3 separate regions of the Homo sapiens genome follow, and regions 1 and 2 are each linked to region 3. Evidence: fine-mapped expression QTL. A gene starts in region 3. Each other region holds a variant in brackets. All regions are shown on one strand. Distances are between the middles of the regions.

Region 1 (10,371 bases), 69 kb before region 3:
TGGGAGGGCTTCTAGGTCACAGGTGGATTTTCTGATTGGCAATTGGTTATTATTGAAAGACCTGGAATCAATAGAAAAGAGTGTCTGAGTTAAGACAAGGGTTATGGAGACCAAGGTTTTTATTATGTAGATGAAGTCTCACAGGTGGCTGCCCTTGGAGGCAATAGATGGCAAATGTTTACTATTCATATTCTTAAAAGGTGCTAGACTCTCAGCTAATCTCTTCAGGATCAGAAAAAGACATGGAAAGGAACAGAGATTCTCCACAGAATATAGATTTTTCCCACAAGAGTCAGCTTTGCAGGGCCATTTCAAAATATGTCAAAAGATTTATTAGGGTAAAATACTTCTATTTCTTTCAGGGCCTGCTATTTGTCATGTGATGTTATAGTAGAGTCAGGTTGGAATTTATTATCTTATTGCTGCAAAGAGTCTGTTTTGTTAGGCTTAAGTTCACTGTTTTCATATTAATGCTGGTCACTTGTGCCCGAATTTAAATGGGCAGAGAGTATAATGAGGCATGTCCAACCCCTCTTCCCACCATGGCCTGAAAGTTTTTCAGGTTTACTTTGGAATCTCCTTGGCTGAGAGAGGGGTCTATTCAGTTGGTTGAGGGGGCTTAGAATTTAATTTTTGGTTTACAATCCTCTGACAGAAGCTGGGGTATCCAGCCAGCATGTGCTCCACTGGGGCTGAAATAAAGCCATGGGCCCAAAGGGAAAGATCTCAGGAAGGGTTCTAGGCCAAGGGATCCAGGACCTTGGGATCACTTGGAGAACTTGTTTTAAAATGCAGATTTCCAGATCCCACCATAGACTTTAACAAATTAGATTCTCCAGCAGTGAGGCCTTAAAACCTGTATTTTTACTCTAACAACATAATAATAGCAATTAATATTCATTGAACACATACTCTATGTTACATGCCTTATGCACATTATCTCATTTAATCATCACAATATCCTATGATCTAAGGACTAACATTTTTCTATTTCACACTTTAAGAAACAAAGGCTCAGAGAGGTTAAGCAACTTGCCCACAGTCCCATAGCTAGTAAATAGAGTCAGGATTCAAACCCAAGCAGAACAGCTCTCAACCACTACAGCATACTGAGTATTGCAGATGATTCTTTTCTTTTCTTTTTTTTTTTTGAGACAGAGTCTCATTCTGTTGCCCAGGCTGGAGTGCAGTGATGCGATCTCAGCTCACTGCAACCTCCGCCTCCCAGGTTCAACTGATTCTCAGGCCTCAGCCTCCTGAGTAGCTGAGGTTACAGGCACATGCCGCTACGCCCAGCTAATTTTTGTATTTTTAGTAGAAATGGGGTTTCACCATATTGGCCAAGCTGGGACTCCTGACCTCAAGCAATCCGTCCACCTCAGCCTCCCAAAGTGTTGGGATTACAGGTGTGAGCCATTGCGCTCGGCTCCAGATGATTCTTATATGGCTAAAATGGCTCCAACCCAACTTTGGGGATCATTCCCTGCCCCCTAGTCCATCCTAAATAAAGAACATCAAAATCTTCTTTTCTCCTTTCTTTAAACATTTCCAGAAGCACACCTGGACCCACTCAATAATCTTAGCATCATGAAAAGTAGAACAACCGGACATAAAATAGTGACATAGAAAGTACACAGCAACACCTATGATATGCTGTGACTTACAAAATGGAACCTAAATCCGCTTAAGCCTCTTGTTCAGCACTATCAACAGAACTTTCTGCAATGATGAAAATGTTCTAGATATGTGCTGTCCAATAGAGTAGCCACTAGTCACATGTGGTTACTGAGCACTTGCAATGTGGCTAGTGTAATAGAGGAATTGAATTTTAACTTTTATTTAATTTTAATTAATTCTAATTTAAAAACTGAAGTGGTATAAAATATTTTCCATTAAATACAACTTTATTGTTTCAGTAGAATTGCATTTCACTTTAACCGTTGCATTGCTTTGCGTAAGAATTGAAATGTGGGCTGGGCACAGTGGCTCACACCTGTAATCTCAGCACTTTGGGAGGCTGAGGCAGGCAGATCACTTGAGCCCAGAAGTTCAAGACCAGCCTGGGCAACATAGTGAGACACTGTCTCTACAAAAAAAAAAAACTTAGCTGGGCATGGTGATGTGCACCTGTAGTTCCAGCTACTTAGGAGGTTGAGAGGATCACCTGAGGTCGAGGCTGTAGTGAGCCGTGATTGTGCCATTGCACCCTGGGCAACAGAGTGAGAATCGGTCTCAAAAACAAACAAACAAACAAAAAAACAGGTTGAGATGTGCTGTAAGTATAAAATTCACACTGGATTTTGAAGACTTAGTTTGAAAAATAGAATGTAAAATATCTCATTAATAATTTTAAATAAAAATATTATTAAAATCAATTCACCTATTTCTTTTTGTTTAGTCAGTGTGGCAACTAGGAAATTTAAAATTATGTATGTGGTTCACATTACATTTCTATTGGACAGCGCCAATAGGCAGGGTATCTCCTCTAGATCTAACTACTAGTTACAGGAAATACAGGGAACAGAGGAATGAGTTAAAGAACACCATGAGGAAGGAACAAGTCTAATCCAGACTGTGAAACAGGACAAGTGGCCTAGTTTTCCAACATATCAATGGCATCAAAAAAGAGGCAAAAAAAGAGAAGGGGAAGGGGGAAGGTGAAAGGGTGAAGAGAGACTGAGATAAGATGGCACATTTGAGCATATGTACCATCTGCCATAGCTGCAGCGCCCCTCTGCTCAGGGTTGAGTAGGGTGTGGCCTAAGGTGGCTGCCTTGGTGTTGGGGACCAGGCTGGTGCACTATTTTCTCAGTGTCTCATGGGTGAGGCCGTCCTTTGCCCCACTCTGACCCTTGCCCCCACCTTGGGCAGGTGCTGGAAGCTGGAGCACCCTCCCAGCTGCTGGAGTAACCCTGGGTCTGCTCTGCAGACTGGGGTCAAAGGGCCAAGATGATGGCTCCAATCCTTCAGCAGCAAAGATACAACCTTCACCTTGGGGTGGGACATGTGAGAGTTCTAGGGCTCAACTTTTCTTCTTGTGAAACAGGAGTGAAAAAAATAATGCTTTCATTACCAGCTTTGGATGTGAGGGTGGGAGTGAGAGGAATCTCTATGAGATTCTTGATAAAGTCCTTGACATAAACACCGTACATGGTGTCATCATCAGGGGTGGCAGTGGTGGAAGGGGGCTTGATTTAGAGTTTATTTGAAGTTTGCCACCGGTGCAATGTGCTTTCCCAAACATTTCCTCACTTGAGCTTGATATCCACCCGGAGGGCATCCTCATTCTCAGATGAGAAAACTGAGGTCTCAGGAGAGCAAGTGACTTGCCCAAGATCACACAGCTAGTAAGTGGCAGGACCAGGATTTAGACCCAGATTTTCTCAGCCCCAGTTCACCATGTGTCCCTCTCACCACAACCCTTCCACATTACAAAGCCTGAGGTGCTGATGCAAAATGGAAAGGCTCAAAGCAGCCCCAGGCACTGGGCAGTCCTCTGATATCCCTGCTCTGCTGCATCCACGCTCTCCTCACAGTGGGCTTCACTATCTATCTTCCTCTCTCCCCAGCTATATTATTTTTGCTTCCACAGCACCTAGTGCAAGAAAGACATTCAATCAGAAGTTTGGTGAATAAAAGAAGAAAGAAAGAAATAAAACATTAAAAATAACAACATGATGTAGAATATTCTGTATCATATAGACAGTGAAGCCTTGGTATTTGTGAAAGATCTGTCCAGAGCTCTCTGCAAATTTTCACATCTGCAGTGCCCCCTCTGAAACACACAGAACCCAGCTCCACCCTTAGTCTGCCAGCCCCTGCCAGGTTGTGTGGGCCTGTGACCTCGGGCAAATATCTAAATAAATAATAACCCTGCAATTCCTACTTTAAATAAAATGCTGCATCAGTGTAAAAGCTTCTTAGCTTAGCATTCCCAAAAGCCACTGACATGAAGTCTGGGGTTGAGGGAGGACTTTGGGGTGCAGTAATCAGTCATCTGTTTGAAGGTGAGATATGGGCAGGAGACCTGGTGAGACATGGTCTCCTTGGGATGAAGAAGGGAACAGCCACTGTGCCCCCTAGAATCTCCCCCAGAAACTCAGAAAGGTGGGAGGCTGATGACCTGCCACTGTCTAGGCCCTGGATACCCAGGCTGGGACATTCACATTAATGCTCAGTCACCTCTTTTCAAAGCCAAACCAAGGAGCCTGAGTGTCATTTCTTTACCCTCTAAGACCTCTGCCCTGGAGCCACCCCCCATCTCCTTCCAAGTTTCTTTCCTCTTACATCCCACATCTCTTTAGCTTTAAGATGAAAAACAAAGCCTCACGACCTGGCCTCATCTCTTCTCCTAGTGTTCCCAGGATCATCCCCTTCCTGCAAATCTGACCTTTGCCTCCTTCCTCCCTGCAGGGTGGCATGCCTGCTGGAAATGCTTTTCAGACTCTTCTGGAAATGTATACATGAATGACCTGCACAGGCAGCGATAGGGGAAAAATGCTGCCAGAGCTGCTGGGCCCAGGAAGCTGGGCTCAATTCAGGAACCTGGGAAGCATCACTGCCACCCTGGAGCACTCTGCCAGGCAGTTCTCTGGTATGCAACCACCACGGTATCGCTTTCCACAGGCTTGGAATCAAGGAGGCCCCAGAGCAGTCAGGGGCCTGTGATGGGAGGCCAGCCCAACCTTCACAGGGAGACTTACATTTTTCAGGGCTAGTTCCACATGTGACATGAGTTAAGCTGCTGAGATTTTGAATATATTCTATACCCCATACAGAAGTCAACTTATATGGACAATTAAATCCTTCCCAGTCCTGCCTTCAAGAGTCACGACCAGAGGCAGCTGCTTCTAGGGAGGTCACAGATGGGATAATAACAACTGAAAGGGATTTAGATCAGAGCCAGGCATGTCCTCCTAGTGCTGGCCACTTGAGCAGA[A/C]AGCAGGCGGAAGCCCTGCACCAGACAACAGTTGCTGAGAGGGGCAGTGGGATCAGCGTAGACTCATTCATAAAACCTGCAACTGGGCAGCTTTCAACTGAGTAGGTGGATACTAACACTTACTGGGCAAACCCACTAACCTATTAGGGCCCAGTGAGGACCACGAGGCCAAGACTTCTGACCAGCCTAACAGGAGTCACTAAGTCTAAGCAACAAAAGCCCATGAGGCTGGGTGCGGTGGCTCATGCCTGTAATCCTAGCACTTTGGGAGGCCAAGGCGAGTGGATCACTGGAGGCCAGGAGTTCAAGACCAGTCTGGCCAACAGAGTGAAACCCCACCTCTACTAAAAATACAAAAAAAATTAGCCAGGCATGGGGGCACATACTGGTAGTCCCAGCTACACAGGAGGCTAAGGCACAGGATCACTGGAACCCGGGAGGTAGAGATTGCAGTGAGCCGAGATCACGCCACTGCACTCCAGCCTGGGTGACAGAGCAAGACTCCATCTCAAAAAACAAACAAACAAACAAAAACAAAAGCCCAGGAACTCCTCTCCTGGGAGGTCCTCCCTCTCAGAACCTGGCCATACATGGGTTAGGGACAGTCTTGGAACGCTTGGGTCTTCTCCAATCTCATAAATTCTTAGCAGTCCATAGACAGGCACCCTGAGAACAATGAGACAGCTTGGAAGTGAAGGGGGAGACAGAAACGGGACAGAACTTAATAAGCACAGAGGCCCAAGCAAGTCATGGGAGCACCAGCGTGACAACTGATGTTACAGATGGTGCACCTGAGCTCACAAGAAGCCGGCACATAACTGGCTGACCATGAGCCCTGTTGGGAAAAACACAGACATCTCAAGAGCATTTACCTGCCACATCCCCGCCACCGACTCCTAGGGTTCTACAAACAGGAAGAAGCAGGCAATTTCCCCAGCAATTAAAGGCATGCCAATTATAGTAAGAAAGTATCAATTTATAGCTATAAAGATCAATAAATAATGAAACACGTTTCAAAACAAATGACCCAGGGCTGGCAGGGCTGCAGGCACACAGCAACACTCCTACGTTGTGGTAGTAATGGTTAACCAGCACCATCTTTGAAAAGTGAGGATATTGAGTCCCAAAAATGTCAGCCTTTGGCTTAGTCATCCCATTCCTGGGGATGTTAGCTAAATCCTCAGGACTTTGCTGAAAGAATTAATTAAAAAGAAAAGGAGAAAATCATGAGAAGAAAGTTGTTTTATCAGTAAAATTTGTAATGGTTAAAAGCTAGGAAATAAAAAGCATGTGTCCAACAATAAGGATGCTATGGTTTGACTATTTGTGCCCTACAAACTCGCATTGAAATTTAATTCCCAATGCGGCCGTATTAGGCAGTGGGACCTTTAAGACGTGATTGGGTCGGGGTGCGGTGGCTCACGCCTGTAATCCCAACGCTTTGGGAGGCCAAGGCAGGCGGATCATCTAAGGTCAGGAGTTCGAGACCAGCCTGGCCAACATGGAGAAACCCCATCTCTACTAAAAATACAAAAATTAGCTGGGTGTGGTGGTGGGTGCCTGTAATTCCAGCTACTTGGGAGGCTGAGGTAGGAGAATAGCTTGAACCCAGGAGGTGGAGATTGTAGTGAGCCAGGATCGCGTCATTGCACTCTAGCCTAGACGACAGAGCGAGACTCCATCTCAAAAAAAAAAAAAAAAGAGGTGATTGGGTTATGAGGGCTCTGTCCTTATGAATGGATTAATCCATTCATGCATTAGTGGATTAACAGGTTACATGGGTGGGACTGGTAGCTATATAAGAAGTGAGACCTGAGATATCCCACTCTGCCCCCTCACCGTGTGATGCACTGGGCTGCCTTGGGGGACTCTGTAGAGAGTCCCCATTAGCAAGAAGGTCCTAATCAAATGTGGCCCCTCAACCTTGGACTCCTCAGCCTCCATAACTGTAAGAAATAAATACCTTTTCCTTATAAATTAACCAGTTTCAGATATTCTATTATAAGCAATAGAAAATGGACTAAGACAAGGGAAATACTGGTATGCAATTCAGTGAAACATATAGTCAGTTAAAAGAGAAAAGCCAATTTTTAGAATTATGTTAATTGGGGAAAAAAGTAGAGCAGGAAATTATACAAGTACAATGATTGTATACAAATAGATAAAGATTGAGAGGAACCACAGAAAAACATAAATAGCTGTGTTTGGGTTGTAGGATTATAAATGTAATTTCTTGTCCATTCCTGCTTAGTTTTTTTTTTTTCCTCCCCATAATAAACTTTTTAAGAAGTGGCTCGGCCTTTCCAGAAAGGTGCACTTGTCACTCTCTGCTGGGAATCAGGATGCCGACTGCTGACCCTCAGCTTCTCTCTGGGTCACGCAGGGCAGGCATCCAGTAGTCCAACCAGCTGGGAGGCCCGTGGGAGAAACATGGAGGACACTGGGAGCTAGCGAAGGGAAGAGCACAGGCAATTCTATACATTTAAACACCGAGATGGATAATTTAAGAATCAAATGCAAGAGTATGCAAATGTCCATCTGCTACTTAAATCTATATCCTGCCAATACCAGAGCATAGTTCTCAAATTAGAATGATCTCAAATGTCAGGTGGTCCACCGAGTCTGTAGGCAGGTTAAGGATGGCTGCCTGCTTTACAGATGAGAACTAAAGCTCAGGGAATTGAGGTGACTTGCCCAAGGGCACAAAATCAGGGATTCCTGAGAGATTCTATCACTCCCGCTACCAGGCAGGTGTATACATGCTTATGAGCCTCAGAATATTCTTTTTTTTTTTTTTTTTTTTTCCGAGATGGAGTCTTGCTGTCACCCAGGCTGGAGTGCAGTGATGCAATCTCGGCTTACTGCAACCTCCGCCTCCCGGGTTCAAGCAATTCTACTGCTTCAGCCTCCCGAGTAGCTGGGATTACAGACACCTGCCACCACACCCGGCTAATTTTTGTATTTTCAGTAGAGATGGGGTTTCACCATGTTAGCCAGGCTGGTCTCAAACTCCGACCTTGTGATCTGCCCGCCTTGGCCTCCCAAAGTGCTAGGATTACAGGCATGAGCCACTGCACCAGGCCAGAACATTCTTTATATAGTCCTTGCTGCTTGACTGGACACAGCCACTGTAACTTGTCCACAACCCAACTCAAACTCTATTGTTTATCAGAGCCCCACCTGCCCAGGACGATACCAGCGTGGCTAGCCAAACCCTAGAGTATTGAGGTCATCTATCCAAATTCCATCATGAACTGTGAGGTCTTCCTCTGCTAAGCCAGCATAAGGCCAACCCGCCTCACACTCATAGCTGTCTGCACAGGCCGTGTGGACTCAAGTCCTGGTCCTGCCACTTCCTGGCTATAGGCTCCTGTAAGTGTCCTGGCCTCTCAGTGTTCTTGTCTGTAAAATGGGGATAATAAGAGTGTCTGTGTGACAGCGTTGTTATGAGGATTAAATAAGGTACAGAAGTACTTGGCTTGCACAATGAATACAAAATAACCTGTCTGCACTAGTAAGACATTTCCCTCATCACAGTCTTTAAAGATTGAACAAGACGACAGATAGAAAGCGCCTAGCAAATTCTTGGCTTACAGTAGGACTCTCTAAATAATAGCTATTATTATAACAATAAAGGTGTCATTCACAGCACAAATGCAGTGGACTTTCCCCAGGAAAGGGCTGGAGAAGGGCTTCGCAGAGCCCAGAGATGTTTGTACTTCCCCTCCTCATAGTACACAGCCCTCGCTGACAGCCTCCCCTGGCCCCACCCCACCATCTGTCCCACTCACCCTCCCACATGCTTCTCCAGCCAGGAAAAGACCCCAGTGCAGTCATTTCTTCCCTTTGATCTCCAGGATCCAGTGAAAGCCAGACTTAGGCCATTGCCCTCTGCCCCTGCTATTCAGCAAGCTTGCCCCTCCTTTGGCTCAGTTTCAGGAGGAGGAAGCGGGTAAGGAGGAAGGGGGTAACTGAGACAGAGGGGATCTGCCCACCACTGACTTCACCTCCTCTGGGCTGAGCTTAGGCCTGGTTGCTGCTGCCCCCTGGGGCCTGTGGCTGGAGTTTCCACTGCTCTGCCTGCCCCTGCTGCCCCCCAACCCTGTGGGTCCTGGGGACCCCACTCACAGCTCAAGGATGAGCACCACGTCGGTGCGGTTCTCATAGACGTCGTGCAGCGTGATGACATTGTGGTGCAGCACCTGCCGCAGGATGCTCACCTCCCGCTCGATCTCCTCCCGGCTCACACCGCGCCGGCTCGCCCGGCTCTGCCGCTTCTTGATGAACTTGGCTGCATACTCAAGCCCCGTGCTCTTCTCCCGGCACTTCTTCACGATGGCAAACTGGCCACTGTGGGGACACAGACCCACAAGATTAGGTCATCACTGTGGTCATTGGGGAAATGACCCCACTGTCAGCTACCAGGTCACACAAATTCAGAGTGATTCTGCCAGGACAGGACAAATCATGCCACCAGTCTGCATCCCCACCTGATGACAACCTGTGGATGAGATGGGGCAGGGACTGGGCTTCCCTTCTGTCCATTCCTTCTATGAGGAATGAATGTTAGTATTCTTAGTCCCAGTGTACAGAGGTGAGCACTGAGGCCCAGAAAGGTTATTGATCAGGATGACATAGCCTTGTCATTGCAAAATCTCAGCTAGAACCCAAGTCTAGGACCCACCAGATGAAATCACAATGTCCATAAGCAGACTGGGCTGGTGGGGATCCAGGTTTGGGTAGAGTTTGGAGAGGAGGCAGCCTAACAAGGTTAATCATCATAGTGGGGGAGCATCACAGTCAGAGGACTTGGTATAAACAGAGAGTTGTACAATTAGGAAACTGAGGCATAAGGATAGGTCATGTGACTCGCCTGAGGTCATCGCAGAGTTAATGGCAAAGCCAAGCCTCAAAGTCAGATACCCAACCGGCTGTCCACAAAGCCTCTGAGATAGTTAGAGCAGTCTAGACCATTATTATTCCCCTTCAGGCACTAGTACCCAGGGCTGGGCTCAGAAACCCATTACTCCAGGGACAGAGACAGCAAGCATGAAATGGAGTCCATGGCAGAGTGGCAGGCAGCCCTGAGCCAGCTTCCCTGAGTGCTCCAGGGGCCCTCCCCACAGGGAAGGGCACCAACCACCTGCTTCTGCACCTCAGTTCAGTGACCAGCAGGAGCAGATCTAAGTCCTCAGAGACTTCCCAGTGACCATCTTGCCCGGGGGTCCTCCCGTCCCCTTACTGCCATTTGCCATCATTGCCCCATGTTTTCTTGCCACCCAAAATACCCACTGCTTGAGTAACTCAGAAAGTTTTCTGGTTCAGCTTAATGGCTCAATAAGGGGCCAGCAGACTCCAGACTTAAGAGGTACACTCTTAGTGGCTCTGGGTTAAAAGCTACATACAGGGAAATGCCTGGGATATTTGCCCCA
Region 2 (10,371 bases), 140 kb before region 3:
ATGATATAGGATCTCCCTGGCTCAATTCCAAAATGAGACGAAGAAACCCAAGTGCAATCCCATCTAGGAGCAGGATAATGGCCCAGCTGACTTTTCAAATGCTGTTCTGGCCTCTGGGTTTAAATCCAAAGAGACATGAAGGCACCAGAGCATGAGCTGGCAAACTCAGCTTCGTCGGCCTTGGAAGTTGTCCTCAGACCCAAGTCCTTACGCAAACTCCCAGGGGAAGTGATGTTTGAGGAGGCAGGGCTGGGAGGTGCAGAGGGTATTTCCTATCCCTTCTCTTTAAAAGGGGAATAAAGGCTGGGCTCCGTGGCTCACACCTGTGGTCCCAGCACCTTGGGAGGCCAAGGCGGGCAGAACACGAGGTCAAGAGATCGAGACCATCCTGGCCAACATGGTGAAACCCCGTCTCTACTAGAAATACAAAAATTAGCTGGGCGTGGCGGCACACGCCTGTAGTCCCAGCTACTAGGGAGGCTGAGGCAGGGGAATCACTTGAACCCAAGAGGCGGAGGTTGCAGTGAGCCGAGATTGCCCCATTGCACACCAGCCTGGGCAACAGAGCGAGACTCCATCTAAAAAATATATATATATAATAAATTTAAAAATAAATAAATAAATAAAAGGGAAATAAAAATTCCAGCCAGGTATTCTCACATTGAGTGGTGTGATGACCTCTGATCTAGGTGCTGGTAGAAGAACACAAAAAAAGCCCACCATCGAGTCGTGTGAGAAAAACACTGCAGGGAGGGGCACTACGTCCTGTCCCTAATAGAGGCTGCTGCGGCAAATGGTGACCATTAGGATGGACTTTTTTCACCTCATTTCTCCCTTTATCTTTAACATAATATTTGATACATGCAAAAGCATAGACAACTAATATGTAAGTTAGAAAGCATTATAATAAATAGAACTTGCAGGAGCCCACCGTGAACTTAGTGTTGGCTGGAACACTGCCAACAGCCCAGTGCCCACCTTGTCCTCCTCCCCATCTCAGCCACCCAGATGTAAGTTTCATCCAGAATTTTGAGAGTGGTCATTCCCTTGCTTTTAAAATTCAATTTTAGGCCAGGTGCAGTGGCTCACACCTGTAATCCCAACACTTTGGGAGGCCGAGGCAGACGGATCACCTGAGGTCAGGACTTCGAGCCCAGCCTGGCTAACATGCTGAAACATAGGGCTCTACTAAAAATACACAATCAGCTGGACATGGTGGCATGCACCTGTAATCCCTACTCGGGAGTTTGAGGCAGGAGAATCACTTGAACCCGGGAGGCAGAGGTTGCAGTGAGCTGAGATCACGCCATTGCACTTCAGCCTGGGCAACAAGAGTGAAACTGTGTCTCAAAAATTAATTAATTAATTAATTAAATTTTATCACATTCACATGTATCCCTAAACAACTTATGGCATAGTTTGTGAGCTTTAAAAAAAAGAGTATAATAGTGTACATAGTTCTCCGGGATTACTTTTTCATTGAACACCGTACTTCTCCAGGAAAAGTAGAGAAGAATGTGGATTTGAGGGTAGGCAAAACTGGGCTGGAATCCCGATTCTAAGTACTCCAGCTGTGTGACTGCATGCAAATTTCCTAACTCCGCTGAATCTCAGCTGTATCATATAAATGGGGCTCTCATTTCCCTTACAAGATTAGGAAGAGGACTAAATGAAATGTATGCAAAATGTTCCTATTGCAGAGCAGATTTTAAACAATTATTATGAGCTTCATTTTCTTTTCTTTCACTCTTCCTCTAGCTTAGGGGTGGAGGATCACTGACCCATAGAGGAAAAAATACTTTAAAAAAATTTCTCCCTAGATAATATAATCAACTGCTTTTTAGATTAAGAACTGGGAACATGAATTTCATTCAGTAAGTAAATAAATGACTAAAATATATACTTCAGCTATATATTATGAATTGCTAATGGACGAAGGGGGAGAGAAGAAGAACCAGTGGGAGAGGGAAAAACCGGAGGAGAGAAACTGTTAAGGGGAACTCACCAATGGTGTGTCTGCTTTTTGAAATGTCAATTAACCATTGTTCACAGATCTTCAGCTGCTCAATCCCTAAGCCTATTAATGTTTGCTTAGAATGGGATCCTCTCAGCAGATCACCAAGGAAGACATTTTCCTTTGGGGTGCAGCTACAGTGAACAGAACAATATCAGGATGAAATCAAGTTGGGGACTCTATGGAAGGAAAGTTCTCCAATCCTGTGCCAGATAGAATTCCCTGTGAGAAACAAGTCCTCAAGTTAGCTCTTTCACGTGTACTTACTTTGATTGTCTGTGGAGTCCAGGGCCTGACTTTTCCTTCATAGAGATGTTGTAGTTCACCTCTTACAGTATGGCCTTCATTTGCTTCCAAAATAAGGTTTTCACAAATAAATATGCGAAGGGAAAAGGCAAATGCAATCTAAGATTTGGAGTCAGGAAAGCTAGTGAGATTGACATCGAAATGCAACACACTAAAATATTTATATGGATATTTGTGAAATATTAATGCAGCATCCAACACTCACATAAGCACACACTCTGGGGCAGGAACCCTCCAGACCTCTTGAAAGAATTGCATTTGAACCGGCATGGCTTTCATCACTGGAATGTTCCATTTGCCTCTGAGAATGCTGTGGTCTCTTTCAGCCCTGTAAGTGTCAGCTGGTCAACACATCCTTCTTCAGAGCCAACAGAACACACGTGGCGCCCTGGGCCAGCTGCTGCGCTCATCCTCACACCTGGGGGCCGCAGTCGTCTGCTAGCAGAGGCCACAGGGACTGGGCCCCTGTCTGGGAGGCGCATGGGTGCCTGGCTTCTGGCTGCTGGTCCTCAAAGTCATCCTCAAAGGATTGTGCATCCTCAAAGGCCCCCCTCTGCCCACTGCCTGGCCCTGTGCTTCCCAAGGGCTTCTAGGAAACACAGCAGGTGCCATCCAACACCAGAAAGCTGGGCTAAGAAGACTCAGTCAGCAGTGCTTTATATAACCTGGATGAGAAGAGGGCCAGGAGGAGATATGGGCATGATGGAGTCCTGGTTTCCCAGGGCTTAGAGAACGTGGACCCCTTTAGGACAGGGTCTGTGTCTGTCCTGCTCTGTTCCAACCCAGCATCTAGAACAGTGCCAAGCATACAGCAGGAGCCCGATTAATACTGGTTCCCTGACTGCCTTGCAGCCTGTGGGGGTGGGCTGCTGAGATGCCCCCATCCAGGGGCAGTGTCCTTTACTGTGAAAGATGGGCAGAAGCAAGTGTGTCAATTTCTTCCATTTCCAAGAATGAAGGATGAGGCAGGCCACAGTCAAGAATAGATGAGACTCGTTAACAATGAGGCAAAGCGAACGGTTCATCCTTTCCTGAAAGGTCCACTGCAGTTTATCAGCTGAAGAAATGAGCACCGTTACTAGGGGCCAGAAAGTCTGGGCTTTCATTAGATATTTTCACAAATTTGTTGTGTGAAGCACTAGTCACTTCCTCTCTCTAGGCATCGGTTTCCTCTTCAGTGAAACATAGTGGTTGGGCTAGACAAGTTGTAAAAGGCTCTCTGATCAAGACTGGGTTTGTCAAAGGTCTTTCCTGCTCTTCTTCCTAGCAGGAGGGCAGCCCCACCTTTACCGTAACTGACTTCCTAGGAGCTCCCAGTGAGCCCTGTTCCAGAACATGCCTGCTGATTTATGTAACCAACCATAGCCAAGAGCCCCTCGCAGGCCCAGGGCCCTTGCCCACAGTTGGCAGTTCTCGGCCTCTGCTATCCTCCCAGGGTGGAGGGAGGCACAGGACTGTTTCTGCCTGAGATCTGGGGAAGCTCAAGAAGTCCAGGTCAGCTGCTAAGCTTTCTGCAGCCAGCTTGTGGGCTCACTCCATTTCTGGCTCGACACTTTTCTGAAACTGGGTCGCCTTGCTGTTCCTGTGGGGTCATTTTGCTCTGGACCCATCAACTGGCTGCTGACGAAGGGAACTGGGACCTCTTTCCCCAGCACCCTTTCCTTTTAATAATAGTTTTCCCCCCTCTCTCCTTCCTGGCTCACTTCCTCAGCTCAGTTTCCTCACCTTCCAAAACTTCTCTTTCAGCCTCTTCCCATGTGCTTTCCCAATCTCCCGGCCTCGCCCTGACTTTATTTCTGACTTCCATGGGTCGTCTCTTGAGTGCTGCTCAGCAACACTGTTCTTTTGGCCTGAAAAACAGGGCCCACATTTCGATGCCATTGAGTGAGCTTCCCTTGCCATTTCCACCGAAGGGGCCAGGTCATCCGTCTTTTTCCTCTCCCTTCTCGCCGTGGATCCTTCTTCGCCCTTCTCCGCCCACATCGTTAGGAATTCTCCTGCCCCCATCTTGGCTGTAGTTGGCAAGTGTGTATTTTGCTAGGGCC[G/A]CCATAAAAAAAGTACCACAGACTGGGTGGCTTAAAAGACAGAAGTTTATTTTCTTACAATTTTTGAGGCCAGAGTCTAAGATTGAGGTGTCAGCAGGGTTGGTTTCCTCTGAGGCCCCCTTAGTTTGTCGATGGCTATTCCCCCTCCCACTCCTGGGCCTTCATGTGGTCTTTCCTGCGTGTCCTAACCTCCCCTTCTTATAAGGACACCAATTATATTGCATCGGGGCCCATATCAGTGAGCTCATTTTAATTTAAGTGCCTTTCTAAAGACCCCATCTCCAAATACAGTGATATTCTGTGGTACCAAGGGTTAAGACTTCAACATAGAAATTTTAGGGAGACACACTCAGCTCCTAACAGCAGGAGTGGTGGCAGTGAGGTAGAGGGAGCATGGGCATACTCGTCTCTGGCAACTTTTTTTTTTTTTGGATATGGTCTCTCTCTGTCACCCAGACTGGAGTGCAGTGGCGTGATCTCAGCTCACTGCAGCCTCGACCTTCTGGGCTTAAGCAATGCTGTCACCTCAGCCCCTGGAGTAGCTGGGATGCCAGGTGCCTACCCCTACACCTGGCTAATTTTTTGTATTTTTTGTACAGACTGCGTTTTGCCATGTTGCCCAGGCTGGTCTCCAACTCCTGAGTTCAAGCAATTCCCCTGCCTCGGACTGCCAAAGCGCAGGGATTATAGGCGTGAGCCACCACTCCCAGTCTCTGGGTGGGTTCTCTTGAACTGGACACCTTCCTGTTAGGGAAGCAAGGAGGAGGCAGGCCCACTGCAGGCCTGCGCGGACGGTTCAGGAGGACCTTCTGAGATTCTGCCCACTCAGCACCCCACTGGGTGCCCCCCCTCAGAGTTACAGGCACACGGGCTAAAGGAAATGAGATGGGGGTAGCCCTAAAAGAAGCCAAGCATCAGGTAAACCAGAAGTTTAATAAAAATGAGCAAAATTACAACATGGCGGGCCAGCAATGGGCTGCTTCAGAAGGTCTGAGGTGTTGGTCAGCCTGACGTCCTGGCTTCCATGGTTCTGGGAGGTCACAGGATTGGTCCCTCACACCCAAGGTTCACTTTCCTCAATCACCCTGTTCCCAATGGGGAGGACTCTGTCTCTCTGGTGTAATTTTTGGCCAGGCTGGTTCTGAACCCCCTCAGCCTGTGAAGAAGGCTGCCTTAGTCTGACCTTCACCCCGTGATGATGAGGATGTCCTTTATATTGTTTTCCTAAGTCCACACTCCCACCCCAGACTCTGAGGATGGCAGACAGAGGAAAGCCCATTTTATGGAGAATTAAGAGCTTTGGGAATGCTGGAGCCTCCTCCACAGAAGACAGCCACAGCTCCCAGGGTCTCCTGGCTTGCCTGCAAGCTCTTCTGAATTCCTTGGGCCCATCTCTCTTGCAAAGTGCTCAGGACGCCCGGGTGCTGGTGCTGAGCTGGGTCCAAAAGTCTGCACAGAAGGGAGCCCCGCTGGGCCCAGACCTCCCTGGCGGCCACTGCAGGTCAGGCCAGTTAGGAGGTGCTGCTCCTCCTCCGTGGGTGGAGGGCTTTCCTCCTGGCGATGTCCTCCTCAGTGTCACTCTCACAGTTCCTCTGGAGAAAAAAAAGAGAAAGAGGTCCAGGGCAGGAGGATCATGAGACGCCAGGAATGGGGCTGTGCTGGGCAACCTGGGTTGATTCACCTGGACCACGGGACTACAAGCCAGGGAGGTGGGTGGTGAAAGCAAGCCTGCTGATCCATCCAGGGGCTGGGGGATGGGAGGGATCTGAAACGAGGCCAGACCAACTGCTTGGAGGAAGGAAAGCAGCAGGGCATCTAAGGGAAACCAGACATCAGGAGAGGCCAAATTATAATAAAGAAAATTACATCTAGTTCCCTTTGTGGCTGCCATATAATCAAGGCCACTTGGCTGGGTGGTCTGTGGCTGCTGGGTCTCCTGAGCTCAGCCTAGAGAGACTGGAGGATGGGTGTGAGCCACAAGGTACTCCCCATGCTTGACAGCCACCATCCCATGCCCCTTCTTCTTTGATGGGCTGCACCTTCAGCCGCCTTGCTGACCAGTGTTTCCAGGGAAATGACTTCTGAGCTCCATTTTTATAAAACAGGAAATGAGTATAAAGTACTGTCTGTCAGTTCCTACATGGCAAACCAGAGCTGAGGCAGCCACCCCGAGGCCATAATGTCTTTTCATCCAAGTCATGATGATCTAATGTAATTATAAAATTATTAAAAGAAGTACTAATCCACAGTGACTTCATTCCTAAAATATCTGTTGTCCAATGTTCAATTCCAGTGCTTCCTAAACAAAAGGACCTATCATTACTCTTTTTTTTTTTTTTTTTAAGGAAAGTCCCTTTGGGAAAACTGCATAACAGATATCTGGGACCCAACATTTTTCCACTTCTAGGATGAACCTTTGAGCTGATGGTGCTTGCTATTTGAGTAAAAAGAGTACTATTTAAGAATATTTGTACAAGAACAAAAGTTTGGAAAGAAACTGACATTCTTTTTGGCTGGGCGTGGTGGCTCATGCCTGTAATCCCAGCACTTTGGGAGGCCGAGGCGGGTGGATCACCTGAGGTCAGGGATTCGAGACCAGCCCAGCCAACATGGCAAAATCCCATCACCACTAAAAATACATAAATTAGCCAGGCATGGTGGTGCAAGCCTGTAATCCCAGCTAGTCAGGAGGCTAAGGCAGGAGAATCTCTTGAACCCGGGAGGCAGAGGTTGCAGCGAGCTGAGATGGTGCCACTGCACTGCAGCCTGGGAGACACAGTGAGACTCTGTCTCAAAAAAAAAAAAAATTGACATTCTTCTCAATTACTCTGGTCTTCTCTCCCCACAGATTGTATCTGTCAGGGAAGAAGGGCCAGCGGCTCAGCCTGCGAGGCATGCCCACCATCTGCCACTCATCCTCCCAGGGCCTTTTCCCCTTCCTCCAGCCTGAGCCAGCTGGAAATCCAAGGTCAAGATCAACTTTAGCCAAATACATCCTAGACCAAGCCCGGCTATAACAATAAAAATAACTCAAGCTCTGCTGAATAGCAACTTTTTAGCTTGAGTCAGAGCCAAACAGTAAAAAAATAAGCTGGGTAAAGTCTGCTTGTCATTATCAGGGATTCTCAGCGGGAGAGCGGTCCAGTGCCCTGCATAGGAGACGAGGAAAGCAGCCAGAGCCGGCACAGGGCTTGGCCAAAGCCACACAGTTGTTTGGGGCCTCTGGGCCATAAATCCTCAAGTGCTGGCAAGAGATCATGCTAAAGAGAGAAGACCCCAGGCTGTGTGGAGGGAGTGGGGACAGCAGGGCTATCCTAGGTCTAGCCGTGCATCATAAGGCTGCTCAGCCCTCTTAGGCACCCACCTCCCAGTCGCTCCCTGAGCAGGGCGTCCCCTTCTGTCCTGACCTGTGCCATCCCAGACATTCCTGAGCACCCTACACCACGCTCCATAAGCGGGGGGAGGGGCTGTCCAGGGAACCCCTACCAACTGCATTTTAAAGTCTACAGGAGGATTTTACTTTTTTAATTTTGAAACTTAATTTTCTTTAGAGTTAGGGTCATGCTCTGTCGCCCAGGCTGCAATGCAGTAGTGTGATCATAATTCACTGTAACCTTTAACTCCTGGGCTCAAGTGATCCTCCCACCTCAGCTCCCTGAGTAGCTAGGACTATAGGTGCCTGTCACCATACCTGGCTAATTTTTTTGTTTGTTTGTTTGTTTTTGTTTTGTAGAGTCAGGGTCTCACTGTTGTTGCCTGGGCTGGTCTTTAACTCCTGGCCTTAAATGAACCTCCCGCCTCAGCCACCCAAAGTGCTGGGACTATAGGCACGAACCACTACTGCCAGCCTACAGGAAGGTTTTAAACAACAACAATTGCTAACGCTTACTGAGCACTTACATGCCAGGCTTTAAGAATATGTCATTATTGGCCTGGCATGGTGGCTTATGCCTGTAATCCCAGCATTTTGGGAGGCCGAGGCGGGCAGATCACCTGAAGTCGGGAGTTCGAGACCAGCCTGACCAACATGGAGAAACCCCATCTCTACTAAAAATACAAAATTAGCTGGGTGTGGTGGCGCATGACTGTAATCCCAGCTACTCAGGAGGCTGACGCAGGAGAATCGCTTGAAGCCAGGAGGCAGAGGTTGCGGTGAGCCGAGATCGCGCCATTGCACTCCAACCTAAGCAATAAGAGTGAAACTCTGTCTAAACAAACAAAAAAAAAAAAAAAAAGAAGAAGAAGAAGAGGAAGAATATGTCATTATTTAATCTTTAGGAACTATTATTAACCCTATTTTACAAATGATGAACTATCAGCACAGAGAGGTTAAGTAATTTCCTCAAGGTCACACGGTAAGTGGCAGATTTGAATCCTGGTAGTCTGACTGCAGAGGGCACCCTCTTCACCAGTATATTCTGTTATAAGCTACTCCCTTTAAATGTATACAAAATGGCAATAAAGTAATCAAATATAAGATATTGTCTAAATATTATGATGATGGTAATCTGAAACAAAGCAGAAATAGAAATATGGAAAAAAGAATGTAAAGCTCCCATTCTAAAGCAGCTTTTGGGTTATCAGAAATACATTTTGGGTTGTCTGTGGTCAGCCGGCAGCAGCGGCCCCTCTGAAGGCCCACCAGGAAAGGATGGGAGATCCTCCAGGAGTTCATGCTGCTGCATCAGTGGTCCCCTCCCGGCACCACCCAGAGGTCCCCAGAACACACTCCTCTGAAGATCACACTTCAGCCTTCAGGGAAGAGGAGGACTGGGCCAGCAGAACTGGCTGGAAACAGTGAACACCCACCTGCCTTGTGAGGGGAAAGGGAACTCACCCATCCCTGAGCTCCAGGCTACCCCAGAATTCTGCCCAAGAAGAGGGCATGCATTTACCCACCAGGTCCTCATCCGGCCTCAGGTGCACCTTCTTCATCAGCGAGCGGGTGAGGTGGTTGCACAGGGACACGATGCTGAAGGAAAGCTGAGGGAGGCAGAGGAAAGGAATCCCCAGGTGAGAATGTGCATGGAGACCCTGGAGAGCCAGAAACCCCGCCCTAGCCCCCACCCTGTCCCCCGCCGCCCCAACCCTGGACACACCTTCCACCGCCTGCGGACATACTGCTTCCTGAAGTTCTCCAGATTGACCACAGACTCCCTGCGCACCATGGCTTGCTGGTTGTCCACCGGCTGAGAGACAAAGCAGAGCATGGCAGCTGATGCTGGGCTTCAGACAGCAGCCACCCTCCTCGCCGCAGAACTCCCCACCCACCGCATGCCCACCGCCCTTGGCTTGACCCTGGCATCTCCCCGCCAGGTGGGGCACACCGTGGGAGCATCACAGTCAGGGCAACAGCTACACATGTCTCAGCTGTTCAGGAGTTGCCTCTCAGCTATTATTACCACAGCCTGACACACACACAGCCTTGGCTGGAGGCTCAGCAGCTCCTGAAGGGGAATAGCAGGAGGCAGGCCCTCCAATCGCACATCACTTTGGGGAGAGGGTCATTTTACAGCAGTCTGGGATGCCCTCTGGGCACTGGGGTGATTCTGGGCTTGGCAAAACAAATGCCTTGTTGGTAGACGGGGAATTCATACTCCATTAAAAAATAAATGGAAGGAAATAAGGGCTTTGATGAAAGTCAAGAGGCAACAGGATGTGCAGTTGCTTTTCACAGCCTGGCAGTCAGAGCTCAGCTTAAATTTTGACTTCTCCAAGAAGCTTGGGATGGCTTCTCTGAGCCTCAGTTTCCCCATCTGTAATATGGGGATAATAATATCATGTCACAGGGTTGTTAAGGATTATATGATCATGCATATATAAAGTGCTTAGCCCAGCACCACTCAATAAATAGTAATAAGTTATTGTGAGCTTTCCTGCGTTCTCCATTCCCTTTTCAACACCCCCCTTTTGTAAAATAAGGTTTTGTGAAATCAAGAGATAGGTTTCAGGGGTTCTGTGAACAAAATGTGCCTATATATCCATACAAAGGAATATTAGTCAGAA
Region 3 (10,371 bases):
CTTTCTCAAGGCCGCTACTCAGATGCTCATCAGGTAAAACAACTGATAGCCACTTCAAGCACTTTCCTAACACCTCTCCTAAGGCGAATTTGCATTTTACCAGTTTAGAAACAAACTAAAGGGGTGAAACTGAAGTGGAATTATAGTCACCAGCTAGGACCCAGATAAGGAGCCAGAGGCACAAGGACCTTTCCAGCCTCGAAAAGCTGAAATCACATGGCAGAGGGAAGGGACACAGTTACAACTTTTGGCCAGAAGCACAGGCCATCAGCTCCAGATGCTCCCAGGATGATACCCACCTTAATGCCCATGTTTCTCCTGATGGAGTCCTTGGAATTCAAATTCCTGCCTACAACTCTAATACCAGGCAACACTTCAGGGGGCTACCACAGATTTCCTAGAACCCCATAGATCATCTATTTAGGGATTTTTAGAACTGCTTCAGGATCACCAGGGTGAGAAGGGGAAGCCAGAGCAGTTCCACGTTATCCATACTATATGTTGGCGTTCTGGGTAAGAATTCACTGTGAAACAGAAGTTTGAAAACCACTGCTGTCTGGTCTAACCCACTTGTTTTTACAAGAGGAAGCTGAGATCCAGAAAGGGGAAGGGACTCACTGAGCATCATACAGGTGACCCATCCCGCTCCTCTTCCCAGGGCTTCTTCTGTTGATAGCCACCCCAACTCCTCCAAGATGTCACCAGGGTTGGCAAAGTCAGTGGCCTCCTGAGGGACAAGCTAGGAGGAGGTGTCTAGGGCTGGAAGATCACCTCATAGGAAACTCTCAACACTCAAGAAGCCCTCTCCACCACTGGCCCAGCTCACTCTGCAAAGTGAACTCTCTCAGTTCCTCATCCCACCTCACCAAGTGCAAGTGAGTGAAACGGGACCACAGCAAGAGGGCAGGCAATGGTTGGGCAAAACACACACGACCGTCTCATTACACACACCCCCATTAGGAATCATCACACTCAGGCTCTGGAGAGGCTGCCAACAGAAGGGATGGGGCTCCGGCATTACAGAGCTCCTCTCTACATTCCAGGCTTTGACCCATCACAGTCTCCAATGAGGAAGCTGGGGCCCACAGAAGGTCAGCCACCTGCCTGAGTTGACACAAGAAAAACTTGGTCTCTCTGGCAAAGATCCAGCTCCCTTGGGAAGCCTGCTTGTTCACCCCACAGCTAACAAATCGGGAGGCCTCAAGGAGGTGGGCAGGGTCAGTGCGGGTCTCATTCCTGCCAGCCAGGAACTTACCCCAGAGGAGCAGACCTCCAGCCACATCCACACACCCCTGACCCCTCTGCCCAAGTCTCCTCTGAAGGTGCTGAATCATCAGTGGTGCCACTTGAGGGTGCTCAAAAAACATCTTGGGAGATGAGCGGTTTGGGGAAGGACAGGGCTGTGAAGTTAGCTGTGAAGAGGCCAAGGCACCACGGCCTCTTAGGTCAACAGGACTCTCCCAGGAATATCTTCCACAGAGGCAGTTGGGAGTCGCAGTGTCAGAAACCAGAGTGGCTGCCCTCCACAGGATTCCAGGATACAAGATGTCAGGCGCTGTCCCTGCACCTGCCCGCTTGCCCCCGAGGCAGCCAGCTATGGTGCCCTCTCCTCCAGTGTGCACCACTGCCTTACCATTACCTGCACGGCCTCAACGAGGCTCACCTCTCTGGACCTTGTTTTCTCTTTTGTAAAGTAAGAATACCAATTTCCACCGTGCAGAGTTACGGTGAGGGTTAGCCAGACCTATGCAAGCCTTGGGACCTCCAAAATGCCTAGCCCAGAGTCCTAGTCAACTGTTGGCAACGCCCTTCCAAGCCGTTCCACCCCAACCTGCAGCACACCTGCTGGCCGCCCCCACGCCCATCCTAGCTCTACCCCAGGCCGGGGCGCCTGACGGCGGGGACCCCAGCTTCATTCAGCCCCAGAGGAAGCTCAGACATCTGAGCACCCTCCTCGCATCACATCCTTGTGCCAGGCGGGAGCAAGAGGTGAGAGAGTCAGCCCAAGCTGAGAAGACTTGGCCGGGAGCCGGGCGTGCTCTGCCCGTTCCAGGGGGCCTAACTCGATGGACGTCTGTCTCCCATCTCCCTGCTGGGTGCTTGGCTCTGCCCGCCGCCTCTACCCTGTCTCCCAGGTCAAAGTGCCAGGCTCCGGAGGGCGCCCCAGGGCAGCGGCGGGCAGCTCCCGCGCTCGGGTGCCGGCCACAATGCCCCGGGCCACGGCGTCAGGCATTGGGGCGGCGGGCCCGGGATCTGCGAGCGAGTGCCCCGGATCTCTTCGCCCCGCCAGCCCCAGACCCGGGCGCTGCTGCCGTCAGGCCGCGCGCCCCGTCCCGCCCATCGAGCCCGCAGACGGGTGCTACTCACGGCGGGAGGCTGAGCTGCCGCGGTCGCGGCCGCGGCAGGCGCGGCGGGAGCGGCGGGCGCGGCGGGCGCGGCGGGCGCGGCGGGCGCGGCGGGAACGGGGGACGCGGCGGGGTGCGCTGGGCTCGGCCCTGCAGTCCTCTCCTCCCAGAGCGCCCGGCACCCGCCCGCCGAGCAGCCTAGGAGCCGAGGGGGCGGAGCGGCCAGCCCCGTCCCAGGCGCCGGCTGGAGGCGCGCCCGGCTGCCCGGGACGGGGCTCGGGGCGCCCCCTGCTGGAGCCCCCTCCGGACAGTCCCGGGGCGAGAGCCCAGCTTCCCGGCCGGGTAGGGGACACCTCAGGGCTCCCAGACTCCCGGGAGAGCGGGGAGAGTCGGTAGCAAGACCCTCTGCGCGTCCCTACCGGCTCTACCGCGCACATGCTGCGTGGCCTTGGGCAAGTCGGCTACCCTCCCCCGGCCTTATCTGGAAATCGATTTGAATGAGCTTATACGTATGACATGGTCTGGCACAATCCTCAGAAAATGGTACTTGTGTGCTCCTCTCCCCACCATACACACCGTGAGCGAGGAAGCCCCACTGAGGAATAGGCCGTCTCCTCCCTCCCAGCCAGAGCGCTCCCTACACCGCAGACTCTCCTGGAAACCTCAAGCCCACAGCGTACAGCAAGGTGGGGGCTGCGATGAGAAGGGCCGCTCTGCTCCTCACTGCCCCCGACCCAGCCTGAGAGCGGCCTGCCCTCGTTTGCCCTTTGTCCTGGCACGGTTGCTGAGTGAAGCCCCCCTCTCACCATCACGCCTTCTCTAATAGAGGACTTGGGAATGGGTTCCTCTCTCTGCCCTCTGCCAAAAAATCCCTGAGGAAAAAAGGAATGAGAGTGAGGGGGTGAAGGGAGGAAGGAAGGGAAAACAGAACTTAAGCCAAGTTCATTTGTCTTATTTCAAAACAAGAGGCTGTTTAGAGGAAGCAAATGAGGACCCCTCCAACCCCTGGAATTTCCATCCCTAAGTCACCCATGGGGCTCCTCAAAAGGGCCTTAGATTCAGAGTCCTACCACCAGGTTCAAAGCCCTGCCCTGCCACTCCGCATGTGTGTTCTTGGGCATGGCTCTTTCTTCATCAGTAAAGTGGGAGAAACGCACCTTCCGGTAGCTCCTAATGAAGCTATGGTGGGGCTGAGATGAGATGGAGTGTGTAAGATGCACCTAGAGGACCTCTACCAGTGTGAGCACACACACACCCTTCAGCCTTTTGGACATTGGGACAAATACAGATGGACCCCACCCCCCAGCTGAGCAGTGCCTCCGGGTCCAGGACATCCTCGGCAAAGAGTTCCTTGTTTATAAACTTCACAATAATTCAGAACAGTGCAGCCAGCGAGCCTCCTCTCCTAAGAGCAGCATGATATATAGAGTAATATCCAAGACTAGAGGTGGTTTCTGATGTCAACGGACCTAAGGGAATGACACCCACTGGTGAAGTTTCACCAACATGAGAAGTCCCCCACCAAACTATCCCTAAACACCTCTTCCTCCATTTCCATTTACCTATCACTGGTGACAAACCATTACCAGCCTTGGTGGCACAGGACAACAGTTTCACTATGTTCATGCATTCTGAGGGACAGAAGTTCAGACAGCACAGTGTGTATGGCTTATTTCTGCTCTGCAGTGTCTGGGATTTCAACTGGGAACACCTGAATAGCTGGGGGCTGAAATCATCTGGAGATTTCTCCATTCTCATACCCAGTACCTGGGCTGTGATGAATCCAAGGCTGGGCTCAGCTGACCCTGCTGATCACCTACATGTGGCCTCTCCATCTCTTTCCCTTGAGCCTCATGCTTAATACCTCATTGTCAGCAGCAGCAGCCCCTTACATGAGTCAAAAGAGACATTCTTGGGTTTAGCAATTGACAAGTTAGTCAGAGTCCATTGCAGCTGGAAGGGTCATTGTCAATTGACCCTGGCCACTTTTCAGATGAGGAAACTGAGGCTCGGAGAAGGGAGGTGACTTGCCCAACATCACATAGCTGGTGAGAGACAGAGCTAGGATTAGAACCAGGCCTCCTCCAGATTCAGTCTGGTGCCCCTTCCACTGTACCTGCCAGAATGCAACTATCTAGGAAGCTACCATCTGGAGATGCATCTTATGCTTAAGGTTGGGTGAGTTCATCAGACCCTCACCTGAGGGCAGCGACAGGGCACTGAACACAGGACCAAGGTGGCCATCAGCAGAAAAGGGGAGGCCCCGAGGACAGTGGCAATGAAGACACAAATTCCAGAATGAAGCCAGAGGCAGTCCAGGTATTAAGAGCTAAGAATTATCCAACTCAGTTCCAGTCCCTGCATGGTTCCCATGGCTGACCAAATCGAGTGTTAATGCCTCACCCTAGCATTTAAGGCCCCAACCCTTATTTTCCTGCTGTGTATGCACATTCCCTTCCCTCCTCTGCATGCACATCCAGCTCTTTTGCCAGGTTGGATTATTGGCTGTTCCTGCCTCCATGCTTTTGTTCGTTTCCACTACCCTTCATCCCATTCTACAAAATCTTATCTATCCTCTAAGAGCCTTCTAAAGTATCATGTCTTCCACAGAAACTTCCCTGGTCTGCCCTCTAAATACCTCTCTCCTTTGAACCTCACCACTCTTGGTTGGTACATCTCTTGTCATCTTCCTTCCTCTATTTTAATTAGTGTCTACTTCTCCTTTTCTCAAGGGCAAGTACAATTTCTTGTCCATCTTTGAACCCATACAGTGCTTGATATCCCAAACCCAGTAAAGGTTTCTTAAACTGAATTAAGGAAGGTAAATATCACAAGGGGCCATAGCTGTCTTGTTTTCTATTGTCCCCTAAGAGCACCCAAGCACCTGGCACTTAGTAGATGCTCAATAATCTTACTTCAAGTGCTTCACTTCTAGGGGGATGTCATTATCCTCTTTTACAGATGATGTAACTGAGGCTTGAGAAATTTGATTTGCTCAAACTCATCCAATTTGTAAGTGGCTGAGCTGTGACATGAATCTTGCCTACTGGTCTCTGAAGCTATTCCCTCTGCTGCCTTCCCTCAACTGAAACTTCCAAGATTTCTAAAACAGTGTTAATCTGGAACTTTTCAGTCCAGGCAGTACATCAGAATAACTGAGAATAACATGGGGTGCTTAAAATCCCCCATGCTTAGACTGCACCCTACATCAATTACATCAGAACCTCTGAGGATGAGTTCTGGGTATCAGTTTTTGTTAAACTCCCCAGGTGATTCCCAGTGCACAGGTTGAGACCCAGTCTGTTCATGTCACAGAGACCTAGGGAAATTCTCAACCCCCTCAATGACAAACACATCTGAGTACCTGCTTTGTAAAAGACATTCCAAGGGACTGTGAGATGGTAGAGTCACAGGACCTGTGCTTCCCAGGGATGAGAATACAAGCCCATAGATAAAGATGTAACCATGGCAGGCAGCAAAGGGCACTAGTCATGGTGATATCCTAAAGCATACTTTGGTGCCTGGCAAGTTTACAGAGCCTAAAAACCTCCTGACAAGGGGGCAAGGTGGGGATTAAGATGCTGCATGTTGGCCATGGCAGATGGCACCTGGGTTGGCTTACAGCATGTGTAGTGTGACGGCTAAATGCAGAGACTCTGATGCCAGACTGCCTGGGCCCACACTCAGGCATCCCAGCATGCAACTTACGTGCCATGTGGTCTGGGGCAGGCTATTTGATCTCTCTGTGCCTCATTATCCCCATAGGTCAAATGGAGCTTATAGTAGCATTTATCTCTTGGGTTGTTGTGAGCATGCAGTTACTTTTCAATTCGATCAGTGTCTGGCACTTGGTAAAGTCCGCAATGATTATTAACTGTTATTATTATTCCCTAAATGTCTGGCAATAAGCTCCCCTGGGGAGGAAATGGATCTTATTCATCTCTGCGCCCCATCCCACCCCTAGCCTGGCCCAGAGAATTGCCAAATGCAGTCTGAAATGCAGTCTTCTTGACAACGGGTCAAGTCCTGACTCTCAGGCTCTCGGCCAAGGGAGTGCACAGGTGATTCCTCCCCAGAGGGCTTGCCTACTGGATGGAAGGCCGGCAGGAAGCTGCTTCTTCCCAAACTGACCTGGTGGCCTGGCTTCTCAGCCCTTCCCAGCCATGCCCACTCTGCCCTGTGCCATCTGCCCTCCTAGATGGGAGGTGTGGAGCAGGCTTGGTTTGGCAACCTTTCCTGCTACCCCCCCCACCCCCGGGGGCACTGGTTCTTGCAGCCAGAGGCAGCTGCTTCAGCCTCTAGCCTTGCTGGACTCAGCACCACAGGGATGGGGCAGGGAAGGGGAGGAGAGAAGGGAGGAAGGAGCTGGGGGATGGGAGGCCTTGCCTCTCTCTAGAGAACCTGGGGGATGGGGATTTCCTGGACATGTGTACACACTCTTTTACTCCGCAAACATTCAATAGTACCTCCTGGGGTTATGTGCTGGAGTAGGGGCAAATAAAGACCCAATGCCATAAAAGGTCAGATCTACTCCAGAAGGAGCCTCCAGAGAAAAGGAAAGCTTGATTCAAACTTGAAAGAAGAGTAGGGATCACCGGGAGAACAGAAAAGTCCACAGTGGGGCAAGGGAGGCAGGGCACATGGGGTGTGAGCAGCTGTGCATGTAAAGGGCTGCAGGTATGAAACCACTTGTCATTCACCGCCCCTATTTCCACCTGAGCCAGCACAGGGCCTACGCTATGGGATCATGACCCATGCATATGCCATTGCCTTCTATTCAGGACAGAGGCTGGTGACACATTGTGTGGCCAGGACCCCTCAAACTATACCCACCTTTAGGGCTACAACATCCAACCACCTTCTTCTTTAGGCTCGGGAATCAGACAGGCCTATTTGTATTCCTGCTCATCCACTTTCTGAGCCTCTGTTATCTCATCAGTAAAATGGGAATAATTACGTCTTTTTCTCAGGGCTGATGTGAGGACCAGACTCACAAACACTGTGGCAGATGTTTGAGAGAGCACTGGCTCAGGACCATAGGAAAGGTTTGAGAGAGACAGAGATAAAGAGGGAGAGAGAGAGAACTGGCACAAATGTCAACCTCCCTCCCAAACCAGATCCTTCCATCCCTCAAGACAGTCGGTCACGTATGCCCTATCTTTCCAGCCATGTTGTTCCTGCCTCTGTCTCTGAAATGCTTTCTTCTTTTCTCCTTTATCTATCCAAGGTTCAGCTCAATTCCAACTTCATTCATTCTTCAATCCTTTCTCGGTGCCCATTGGGCCAGACTCTGGGCTGGGCCCTGAAAGAAATGAGGCACTGGCCCTGCCCTGCAGGAACTCAGAGCCAAGCAGAGGAAATACCCTGGGAACAAAATGCCTGGAATCCTGTGTTCTGAGGCCAGATCAGGGGCTAGGCAGATCCCAGAAGGAGCCCAGACATGGGAGGGGTGGACCCTGAGTGCCTGGAAGGTGGGCAGGGGGCAGGGAGACTCCTCAGAGGAAAGGACCTCTTCCTAGATCTCATTAGTTAAGAATTCACAGCCATATCTGCTGAGCTGAAGATATGATTTCACCTTTCTGTGTTTGCTGATGGGTCCCCTGAGTGACCCCTGTCACCCTCCCCACTCTGTGCCAGGGATGTAGTCGGAGTCATCAGGGGCCTTTGGTGGATCCATGCAGGAAGGATGGGTAGGACAGCAGCTCCTTCCACACCCCCGCCTGAGCTCTGACCTCTGTGTGGGCTGGTCCTCCCACTTGGGGCCCTGCTCTGCCTGGGGCCCTGCTCTGCCCTCCCTGACCTGCATGGTGACTCCATTTCAGCTGAGCCCAGGTCCTGACCCAGTTATGAACAGCTGCATCCAGGAAAACAAAGACACAGGAGGCTAAGTTCAACCATCTATAGTGGCCTCTGCCCCAAACAGGACTAGGCCCGGCTCTGCCCCCTCCAGATCTGTTCTCCAAGATAAAGGACTCCAGGCTCCCTCAGCCCTTCTCTTTCATGAGATTTTTTTGGCCTCTTAGCCTTGGTTTCCATCACTCCAACTACATAAAATATTTTCATCCTTCCACCCAGATCAAATCAAAATTTGTAGAGAATTTATCATGAGCCAAGGCACTGTGCTGTTTTCTAATTATCTCATTTAATCCTCAAGCTGAATGCATTTTTGAGACCAATATGAATTTTTAAAAATTATATAGATGGGGAAACAGATTCAATCAAAGAGCATGATGGATATTTACATTTAGTTTTGCTGCCCAGTTTCCAATCCCTGCTTCCTATCTGGGAGGAAATAACTATGGTGGCTGTGTAAGTGGATATAATGCACCATCCCTCACCACCAAAGTTGAAGGGAGGCCAGGCATGGAGGCACTTTGGGAGGCCAAGACAGGCAGACTGCTTGCACGCAGGATGTCAAGACCAGTCTGGGCAACAGAGCGAAACCCCGTCTCTATAAAAGAAAATACAAAAATTATCCAGGCCTGGTGGCATGCTGAGGCAGCGGGATCGCTTAAACCTGGGAGGTCGAGGCTGCAGTGAGCTAAGATTGCTCCACTGCACTCCAGCCTGGGTGACACAGCGGCAACACCCTGTCTCTAAAAAAAAGAGTTGAAGGGAGGAAATCTTCCTTCCTCGTGTCCATAAGACTTAGGCATGGCCAATCAGATATTTCTGCCCAGCACTTTGAATCCCAAATAAGTAATGCCAAGATGTTCACAGTGGGGTCAGCAGCAGGCGAGGCCTCCTGGACAGATGATTTTTCCAGCCTCTGGAGCCCCTTTGGTTCCTGCTGCTCCAGCTTCATTGATGCTGTGTCCCTCTCACCCTCCAGCACACCTTTTGTGCTGAGTTGGCAAGAACCTGAATGATACTGGGAGACACGAGAATGTGCTCAATGCTGAAGGGCCAGGAGCCATACATCTTCTTTCACACCCAGAGTAATCCACCTCATCATAGAGCTTCCAACACAGGAGAAAGGTGGACAGAATTCCCAGACTCCCGGGGAAGGGAAGCCTGGCGTACAGCAGGCCTAGAGAGCAATCAGACCCGACAGCCCAGGGGCACAGCAGGCTCCAGGGGCAATGTCTCCAAGAAAAAAGTGAACTTCATACATCAAGCAATCTGTTTTCACCTACTGAGTGGCACTCTTTGAGAGGAAAGTTTGGGGATGAATTTATTGTAAGTACATAGAAAAATTAAATGAATAAATAAAGTGATTATTATTTCTAGAAAAAAACAAAAAGGTGTATAAGTAAGGAAATGTCATCATAATACACTATGGCTCAGCTTTGAGCAGTGAATAATATTTACATGTCATCATCATGTGAACAATAGATTTTTGTCTTGTCTCAATAGAGAGAAGGATGGGGTTGGGGAAAAGTATAAGAATTAAGTGGCCAGGCGCGGTGGCTCACGCCTTGTAATCCCAGCACTTTGGGAGGCCAAGGTGGGCAGATCACGAGGTCAGGAGCTCGCGATCAGCCTGGCCAATATGGTGAAACCCCATCTCTACTAAAAATACAAAAGTTAGCCGGGCATGGTGCGCCTGTAGTCCCAGCTACTCAGAAGGCTGAGGCAGAAGAATCGTTTGAACCCAGGAGGTGGAGACAGAGTCTGCAGTGAGCCGAGATCATGCCACCGCACTCCAGCTTGGGTGACAGAGTGAGAGTCTGTCTCAAAAAAAAATAATTAAGTCCTCGTCTTTCATAATAGGAAGTCAATAGCTACATGAAACTGAAAAGTCATGAAGCAGTTTTATAATAATGTTTCTTGGAAATAAAAGAAAGAGTTTTCAGTGTTGAAACTGGTGGTCTTGGGGCTCAAGTGTGGAACAAGATGGGCAGGGAATAATGGTTCTTAGTTACAAGACTTATAAAGTTTTTGCTCTTTAAAACAATATAAATATATTACTTGGATAAAAAATAAAAGAAAAAGATAAAAAATGGGTAGGATCAGATTGATTTTTTTAAAAGCAGATAAAAATCACAACTCAAGATATCAGAGTTGAGCCGGGCGCAGTGGCTCA

Direction of the effects. Positions count from the first base shown, and alleles are read on the strand shown. Sizes are in standard deviations (SD) of each study's normalised expression. Not every link is listed here.
In carriers of allele G in region 2, the expression in aorta of the gene that starts at base 2,555 in region 3 tends to be higher than with A alone (moderate effect, 0.58 SD a copy in GTEx).

Evidence for each region. PIP is the estimated chance that this variant, and not a neighbour inherited with it, causes the effect. A credible set is the group of variants that fine-mapping cannot tell apart.
Region 1: its variant is the best candidate, but not a certain one, in a credible set for the expression of DAPK2 in esophagus muscle (GTEx, PIP 0.72).
Region 2: its variant is the best candidate, but not a certain one, in a credible set for the expression of DAPK2 in aorta (GTEx, PIP 0.68).

Annotation. Positions count from the first base shown.
Region 1 is chr15:63,974,466-63,984,836 of GRCh38, forward strand. It overlaps DAPK2 (death associated protein kinase 2), which reads right to left. Exons shown (of 12, transcript NM_014326.5): 3 at 9,068-9,289. Among named protein-coding and RNA genes, the nearest start is that of DAPK2, 67 kb to the right of the region's middle. The variant A/C (reference allele first, on the strand shown) is at 4,940.
Region 2 is chr15:63,902,644-63,913,014 of GRCh38, forward strand. It overlaps DAPK2 (death associated protein kinase 2), which reads right to left. Exons shown (of 12, transcript NM_014326.5): 10 at 9,465-9,554; 11 at 9,265-9,348; 12 at 4,393-5,957. The coding sequence ends at 5,877. Among named protein-coding and RNA genes, the nearest start is that of MIR422A, 37 kb to the left of the region's middle. The variant G/A (reference allele first, on the strand shown) is at 4,366.
Region 3 is chr15:64,043,931-64,054,301 of GRCh38, forward strand. DAPK2 (death associated protein kinase 2) reads right to left here and starts at 2,555. Exons shown (of 12, transcript NM_014326.5): 1 at 2,368-2,555. RefSeq lists enhancers at 839-888, 939-988, 6,529-7,075 and silencers at 2,189-2,408, 2,439-2,498, 2,519-2,728.